Regions from separate parts of the Homo sapiens genome. Here regions 2 and 3 are each linked to region 1. The links come from fine-mapping of genetic effects on gene expression. A gene starts in region 1. Each other region holds a variant in brackets. All regions are shown on one strand. Distances are between the middles of the regions. Region 1 holds the start of NUS1 (NUS1 dehydrodolichyl diphosphate synthase subunit). Region 2 has its middle 54 kb from the start of NUS1. Region 3 overlaps NUS1 (NUS1 dehydrodolichyl diphosphate synthase subunit).

Region 1 (2,762 bases):
CCTGAGAGCAGGCCACGGGAACATGAGATTGATGTCTTTAATCTTGTCAGAACGGATAGACATTGGGGCAAAGAAATGAGTACGGTAGAGAAATGTGGCAACATAGTCGGCATGGGGGGTGGGGTGGGGTCTGCAGAATACGTGGCCAAATCTCAATGGGACACTGGTGTCTAGGGAGCTTCCTTAACAAGCATCATGTAGCTGCATAAACTACAGCAATGGGCAGTGAGGAAGAAGACTGTAGGCTTCCCTGATCATGGCCTTTCGCCTCTCCTTCTTTGTCCATCATCAGAGGAGCTACCGCAGAGGAGACCTGGAGAGAAAGAAGTGTGTGAAGGGTGTGCCTGGTGCCCAGCCCTCAGTTCTTCAGGCTGCACTGCCAAAGGGAGGAAAATTGCACTGCGAAAGGGAGATGGACATGAGATTCAACTTTTAAAGTAAAGTTAAATGAGTCTTAGAAACCAAAATGAGACTAGTTGAAAAAGTGACAATGTTAGAAAAATTAAGTCACATAGCCAAGACGTGAACAGATGTTTCCCAGGGGGAAAAAGAGGCTTTAGCGAACAAAGAATAGGTAGGTATTACAAAAACGCAACTGTTTACACACACACACGTGTGTAAATATGTGTGTATACGTGTGTATGTGTACAGTTGCATTTTTGTAATACCTCCCTAATCTTTATATATATACTTATATAAATATAAATGCAAATAATATAAATATTATTGTTGCACACACACATATATATGATGATAGAGGATGTAGCATGTAGGATAAACCTTGAGAAATGGGTTGGAATGTCGGCAATACCAAGTCGGGAATCAGGAATTCAGGAGAAGAGCTTGAACAAAAAGGGCAAAGACAGTACAGACTTACCGCGGGGAAGTACAAAACCATTCTAGAGGACCACGTCGAAGTCCACATGGACAGAAACATTAGGGTGTTAAAGGGGATGATAAGGCTTGGATGGGCAGTTTGCTTCAAATAGTGGCGGTCATTGAAGTCAGGCACAATTTCTATTTTTTTTCCCCACTGTAAACCTAACCCACGGCGGTTGGTCAAAGTCTTGCCGAATAAAAAAAAAAAAAAAAAAAAAGAATTAAGTGACTGGACTGCCAAGCTGTAGAGCCTCTATTAAGCAATGTACAGCCAGGAAAGGATACCTTAGATGAGAATGACATGGGTAGAGGGGTGTTTCAGGAACATGGCTAAAGAGCCTCGCTCCCAGCCTCAGCCGGGAGGCTGAATAAAGGACAGTAGCAGGATCACTCCAGCCTTTGAGGACACTTTTGGAAACCCTGGTGGATTCCCAGCATCAACACTTACTGAGGGCTGCTTTCCATCCCTAGGTTCTTTCCGGCATTTGTAATTTCCAATCCACTTAGGACACTTCTACTCCTCAGAAACCGTTTCTGTCGGGGCCGTGAGAGGAGACAGTATAAGACTTCCTGGACCCAAGGGACGCCGGGTCCCCTGGAAGCGCCCATCGCATTGAAGACCACGTGTGCCTTGCTGGGGTCCCATTCAGACAAGTCCCGGGTCGTTCGCTCATCGCCCTCCACGCGACCAGGGGGCGCCCGCGGTATCGGCCCGGCTAGTTCGCAGGCGTGCGCCTTCCCTCACTGCGCCGGAACGGGCCACGTTCTCGGACCCAGAAGCCGCGTCAGAATTCCACGCTGGCCAATCGGAACTGTCCATGTACTACTGGGGGCGGGGCTGCCAAGGGAGGAGGAAGATGGCGGCGGGGGCGAGGTGAGGTGTTGGCAGTGGAAAGGGGTTCGGGCTCGGGGGGCGGGGGGACGCGGAGCGATGGCCCGCGCCGGCCGCAGGGGCGGATAAAAAGCCGTCGCGCTGCGGGAGTGGGCGGGAGGGAGAGGGGGTGTCTGAGGGCCACAAGAGTATGACGGGGCTGTACGAGCTGGTGTGGCGGGTGCTGCACGCGCTGCTCTGTCTGCACCGCACGCTCACCTCCTGGCTCCGCGTTCGGTTCGGCACCTGGAACTGGATCTGGCGGCGCTGCTGCCGCGCCGCCTCTGCCGCGGTCCTAGCGCCGCTCGGCTTCACGCTCCGCAAGCCCCCGGCAGTCGGCAGGAACCGCCGTCACCACCGGCACCCGCGCGGGGGGTCGTGCCTGGCAGCCGCACACCACCGGATGCGCTGGCGCGCGGACGGTCGTTCCTTGGAGAAGCTGCCTGTGCATATGGGCCTGGTGATCACCGAGGTGGAGCAGGAACCCAGCTTCTCGGACATCGCGAGCCTCGTGGTGTGGTGTATGGCCGTGGGCATCTCCTACATTAGCGTCTACGACCACCAAGGTGAGGCCCGGTGCGGTGGTGGGGGGTGGCCGAGGCGTCTTGGACCGCTAGACCGCTGGTCTGGCGGGTGGTGCCCATGGCACGAGTTGCCGCGGCCTCTCTGCAAATCACAGCGCTAGCGCTTTCGAGGAAGGGAGATCAGCTTTATTGAACACCTACTAATTCTCTGGATTTGACTCAGTAGCTTTTTAACATTTTAAAAATATCCCTTGGCCGGGCGCGGTGGCTCATGCCTGTAATCCCAGCACTTTGGGAGGCCGAGGCGGACGGATCACCTGAGGTCGGGAGTTCGAGACCAGCCTGACTAACATGGAGAAACCCCGTTTCTACTAAAAATACAAGTTTAGTCGGGCGTGGTGGCATATGCCTGTAATCCCAGCTACTAGGGAGGCTGAGGCAGGAGAATCGCTGGAACCCGGGAGGCGGAGGTTGTGGTGAGCCGAGAT
Region 2 (2,762 bases), 54 kb after region 1:
AGGGCTCAGTTAATTAAACACTCCCACCCAGAACTTTGCATCTCTGGTGACTAACGTATCCATAGGAGGAGTTCGGCAGGATTCATGGTGGCAGGGGCAGCTATTTCTGCTCTTCAGCGCTGCCTTTGTTGGCACATATTCCAAGTTTGGTTTGCCAGCATCCCATCAATAATGTGAGCTCTCAACATCCTTCCGATAAATTCCCTTGTTACTTGAAAGAACCAGTGTTGGTTTCTGTTACTTTCAGTTGAAAGGCTTATAAAAGCTATAATGGTTCTTGGTATCCATCTTAGTTCATGATGGTTTTTTAGCAGTTCAAGGTTTATTAATCCAACAGAATTTCTGACTCAGAGATGGTAAAAGTGAAACATCCTGTATAGCCTTAAACTTATAGGTGTTGATTATCTTTTCAAGCTATACCAGATTGTAAAAAGTAATTGAAACATGTAAGCAGCTTTGTCACAAGCTAGCTAGTGTCTTTGCATCATTATAACACCAAAGGTAACAAATTCTGCTTGAAATTTAAGATAAAATGATATAATATTTTTTGTTGCATGAATAATATGACATATATAGGAAATTATATAATAGATAAACTTATTATTGAAGCTTTACTTCATGCCAGACATTAAGCATTTAGACATTTATTTAATCCTCATAACAATCTTATGAGGAAGGTACCATTAAAATTCCCATTTTGCAGATAAGGAAATGGGGGCATTTGCAAAATCAAAAATAAAAGGCAGCCGATACTTTGTTACTCTGTAGTGCTTTTAACTTCATCATTATTAGTAAGTCAGTCCTGTAAGACTCTGCCTTCTAAAGTGCAGCCAGGTCCAGACAGCTCAGCCACTGCAAGCTTCATGTATCCTTTATCTGCTGCTTAAGTATGGATCTCAAAATAGCACCACATACAGATGGTGCAGCTGGCCTAGCAGATGTAGAGTGAAGCTATCTGCAAAATTTTGCAAATGAATCTGTAGCTTAATATGTTACAGATATATAAAAATAATAAGAGTGCACTATTTTAATGTATAATTTTTTTAAGGAACACCTTCCTCATCTAGAGAATCATTTGGGATTATTTAAGGCAATGTCAATTTTATAGCTTAGCTGGAAACCATAAGGAGAATCTCAATACAGAAGTGTACACCAAAAATGACTTTTAAAGAAGTCAGTATGGGTTAGGTTTCATAATCAAGCTGGCAGAAATAGCTTTTTAGGCATTTCTGCCCTAGTACCATCCTTTGACCTAGTGATATTTTACCTCTTTGCTGCGGCAGGCTAAAGGCATCATACAGGTAGAAAGGATTGTCTGAAGCACAATTCTGTGTTTCTGGGATTCTCCTGTTTCTTCAGTATTATATGTATCTGCCTTGATCTCCTTTGTTCTTTGATTTTCTGTTCATTCTCATATTGCCTCTTACCCCCTTCTCCTGGCCCCAGCTTTCCCTTGGCAGCTTATCCCATTAGGTGTCTTTCAGCTATCTAGTGCTGCATAATGGAGTACCCCAAAGTTTACTGGCTTAAAACAACAACTGTTTTTATTATTTCTCACTATTCTGTGAGTCAGGAATTCAAAGAGGGAAGAGCAGAGATGACTAATGTCTGCCCCGTATCATGTCTATTAGAATGTCCAAAATGGTTTCCTCACTTCCATGTCTGGTACCTGCACTAACTAGTCTCTAATGGTAGGAGCTGGCTTGAGTGATTCTGCTGAGGTCATATATTTAGGGTCTTTGGTCT[T/A]ACTCTTGACTGGGTTCCTCAATTCTTCATGCAATCTAATGACCTCTCCCTCTCCACGTGGTGTCTCCATAGGGCTTCTATATGTGGTGTCAACAATGGGGTAACCAGACTTCTTATGTAGCAGCTCAGGACTTTCAAGAGTACAAAAGCAGAAGCTGCCAGGGCTTCTGCCTTATTCTGTTGGTCAAAAGAGGTCACTGGGCCAGGTGAAATTCAAGGGGAGGAGACTATAAAAGGACAACTTTGAGAGTCACCAAAGAACCAGGGTACCACATTGTGTAATTGCAGCATCACAACCATGTTTGTGTTCAAACATTGTGTGCATGTACATGATGGACATTTGATAAAAGCATTTTCTCCATTCTCCTTGCATTAGGCTAGATCCTTATTTCAGTCACCCATACACAGATGTAAAAACAATTATCTTGCATATCATGGTTATTACTGCTTCTCTGGGTTAGGTCAGATTTGTAATAATTTTGGTCAGGGTTTAACACAGAATTTTGAGAGCAGTGAGTTATGCCTTATCTTCAAAATAAAGGTAAGACCAGAACGAAGTGATAATACATTTCTGAATAAAAGAATTGGGAGAGCCTATGGGTTGATTCTTTTTTTATTTTATTTTATTTTTGAGACGGAGTTTTGCTCTTGTTGCCCAGGCTGGATTGCAATGGTGCGATCTTAGCTCACTGCAACCTCTGCCTCCCGGGTTCAAGCGATTCTCCTGCCTCAGCCTCCCGCGTAGCTGAGATTACAGGGATGTGCCACCATGCCTGGCTAATTTTGTATTTTTAGTAGAGACGGGGTTTCTTTATGTTGGTCAGGCTGGTCTCGAACTCCCGACTTCAGGTGATCTGTCCGCCTTGGCCTCCCGAAGTGCTGGGATTAGAGGCATGAGCCACCACGCCCGGCCGGGTTGATTCTTTTAAAATCAACATTCTTGAGATATAACATGTAATATAATTTAAGGTATAACTAACCTAAATATAATCCATGAATCTTGTGTTTTTTTCTCT
Region 3 (2,762 bases), 27 kb after region 1:
AATAGCCAAGATTTGGAAGCAACTGAAGTGTCCATCAGCAGATGAATCGATAAAGAAAATGTACATATGGACCACAGAGTAGTATTCAGCCATAAAAAGAACAAGATCCTGTCATTTGCAGCAACACGGATGAAACTGGAGGCCATTATGTTAAATGAAATAAGCCTGTCACAGAAAGACAAACATCACATGTTCTCACCTGTGGGAGCTAAAAATTAAAACAATTGAACTCATGGAGATAGAGAGTAGAGGATGGTTGCTAGAGGCTGGGAAAGATAATGGGGGAGTGAGCCAGCAGGGAAGTGAGGCTGGCTACTGTGTACAAAAAAAAAAATTGAATAAGATTTTTTTTTTTTTCAAAGTTGTTGTGTCTATTCAGGGTCCTTTGCATTTTTCTACAAATTTTGGGATTGGCTTTCTAATTTAAAAAAACTCTGCTGGGGTTTTGATATGGATTGAATTGAATCTATAGCTCAATTTGGGGAAAGTTGCCTTCTTAACAATATTGAGTCTTCCAGTTCATGATCATAGTATATTTCTCCATTTATTTGGGTTCTAATTTTCTTTTTTTTTTTTTTTTTGAGATGGAGTCTCGCTCTGTCGCCCAGGCTGGAGTGCAGTGGTGTGATCTCAGCTCACTGCAGACTCTGCCTCCCGGGTTTACGCCATTCTCCTGCCTCAGCCTCCCGAGTAGCTGGGACTACAGGCGCCCGCCACCGCGCCTGGCTAATTTTTTGCATTTTTAGTAGAGATGAGGTTTCACTGTGTTAGCCAGGATGGTCCCGATCTCCTGACCTCGTGATCCACCTGCCTCGGCCTCCCAAAGTGCTGGGATTACAGGCGTGAGCCACCACGCCCGGCCGGGTTCTAATTTTCTTAAATAATATTTTGCAGTTTCGGGGTATAGAATTTCTACTTCTTTTGTTAAATTTACTCCTAGGTATTCTTTTTGATGCTGTTGTTAATGGAATTATGTTCTTAATTTTCAGGTTGTTTGTTAATACTTAGAAATACACTTGTTTCTTAATATTGATTTTATATCCTGCAACCTTCCTAAGATACAAGTTCACCTAATCTAGTAGCTCTTTTTGTAGAGACTTAGGATTTTCTAAATACACGATCATGTTGTCTATAAATAAAGATTACTCCTGCTGTCTCTGCTCAGGTTTTTTTTTATTTA[A/AT]TTTTTTAGTCTGGCTTATGTCTACATAGCTTAGTGGTAAGCCAATGATTTCCACATTGGTTATGCTTAGATACCTTAAATTTGTAAGGCTTCCATGATTTCTGGTATTGGAAACTGAATTTAAAGTTGCCACCAGTTCTCAAGTTTCCTTGGCTTTTGATTTTCACTGGACTTTCTTCCTGCCCTGTCCCCTACCCTGCTTCCCCTCCTAGTATGTATGTTATTTCCCAGTCGGCCATGGATATGTGAGAGTTTATCTGAGCCCTTATTTCCTGGATCTCACTGTTAAATTTCTTGCCATTGTATTAACTGGGGCTACAACCTCAGGCAAGTAAAGCTGTGGGTTTTCCTATTTGTTCTCTTTTGAATTTCCCACCTTTAACTGTCAAACCATGGATTTTCATTGTTCCTTTTCCTTCTTGCCTACACCCTCCAGTTCCAGATTGAGTCCGTATCTTTTGGCAGCAAGTAGCAAATCATCTAATTTTTGCTGTCAGAGCTATACTGGTAAAATGTAAGTTCTCTCCAGTTGATTGGGGTGGGCATTGGGAGCAGTCCCAGGCAAGAAGGCCATAGACCTTTGCCATTCTTACTGAAAGCTCTAGCTTTTTTTTTGTTGTTTTCTTTAAGAATAATTGTCCGCCTTTGGTCAGTATCTAGTGTTCTTGAATGGTTGGTTTTGTCCAATTTAACATGTTTTTTATAGAGAAGATTTGCCACCCTCTTTACATCACTATTGGTTTGGAGTTCCTTCTTGTCATTTTTTATGGAAGATAATTTATTGCTTCTTAGGTAATACAGGAATGTGTGTTCCTCTGCTTGGCCCATTCACTCTACCAGTATGGACTTTTAGAAGGACTTTGTTATGGAAATAATTTTTTCAATAGTACTGCTGGACAGGACTGCCTGATCCAGTTTCCTTATTTGACAAATGAAGGAATTTAGCACTGGAGAGGTTGTATAACAGACAAGTTAGTGGCAGAATTGAGGATGTTAACAACTATTGGAACCTTAGTCTCTTGGATTATAGTATCTTTTTTCTGTACTCTTCAAATTTTATTTTTAAGCTATTGAAATACCCTTGTCCTTTTTTTCCCCAAGTCAGGTCTCATATGGAAACCAGTTCATGAAAGAGATAAAAATTGACCTTGTCCTTGTTGAGGCAGATGCTTGGTCTCCTTTTCCTCTCTGAGGCTGCTCTGGCTCTGGGGACCAAGGAAGACATTTGTGATGTATGGCTAGGAGTTGGTCTTTTTGGGTTCATAGCTGTAAAATGAGGTGCATGAGGGAAGGAAGGAGAATAGATATTTTAAAATTTCCTTTTCGTCTCTGAAGTTATTCAATTCTGTGGCCAGAATCAAGCAGTCACACCTTTAGAACTGTAGTAACTTTCCCAGGATTCCAAGAGAACACCTACATTGAGTCTTAAAAGATACATGTGATTTTGGGGGCACCTATTGGGTATAGTGTGGGAGGTGGGTTACCCTTTCTTATCAGGTAATCAATCAAGTTAAACAGACTTTTGAGAAAACTTCCACATTTGGAATGAGCATAGATATTAAAGTATGTATTACAGAGTTGG

The links.
Region 2: its variant is fine-mapped to the expression of NUS1 in whole blood (INTERVAL, PIP above 0.99).
Region 3: its variant is fine-mapped to the expression of NUS1 in whole blood (INTERVAL, PIP 0.90).

Annotation. Positions count from the first base shown.
Region 1 is chr6:117,673,770-117,676,531 of GRCh38, forward strand. It overlaps NUS1 (NUS1 dehydrodolichyl diphosphate synthase subunit), which reads left to right and starts at 1,700. Exons shown (of 5, transcript NM_138459.5): 1 at 1,700-2,316. The coding sequence starts at 1,902. LOC101927919 (a long non-coding RNA gene) reads right to left here and starts at 1,515. Exons shown (of 3, transcript NR_110854.1): 1 at 1,328-1,515; 2 at 878-1,066; 3 at 1-313.
Region 2 is chr6:117,727,955-117,730,716 of GRCh38, forward strand. No RefSeq gene overlaps it. Among named protein-coding and RNA genes, the nearest start is that of NUS1, 54 kb to the left of the region's middle. The variant T/A (reference allele first, on the strand shown) is at 1,747.
Region 3 is chr6:117,700,682-117,703,443 of GRCh38, forward strand. All of the region lies in intron 3 of NUS1 (NUS1 dehydrodolichyl diphosphate synthase subunit), which reads left to right. Among named protein-coding and RNA genes, the nearest start is that of NUS1, 27 kb to the left of the region's middle. The variant A/AT (reference allele first, on the strand shown) is at 1,181.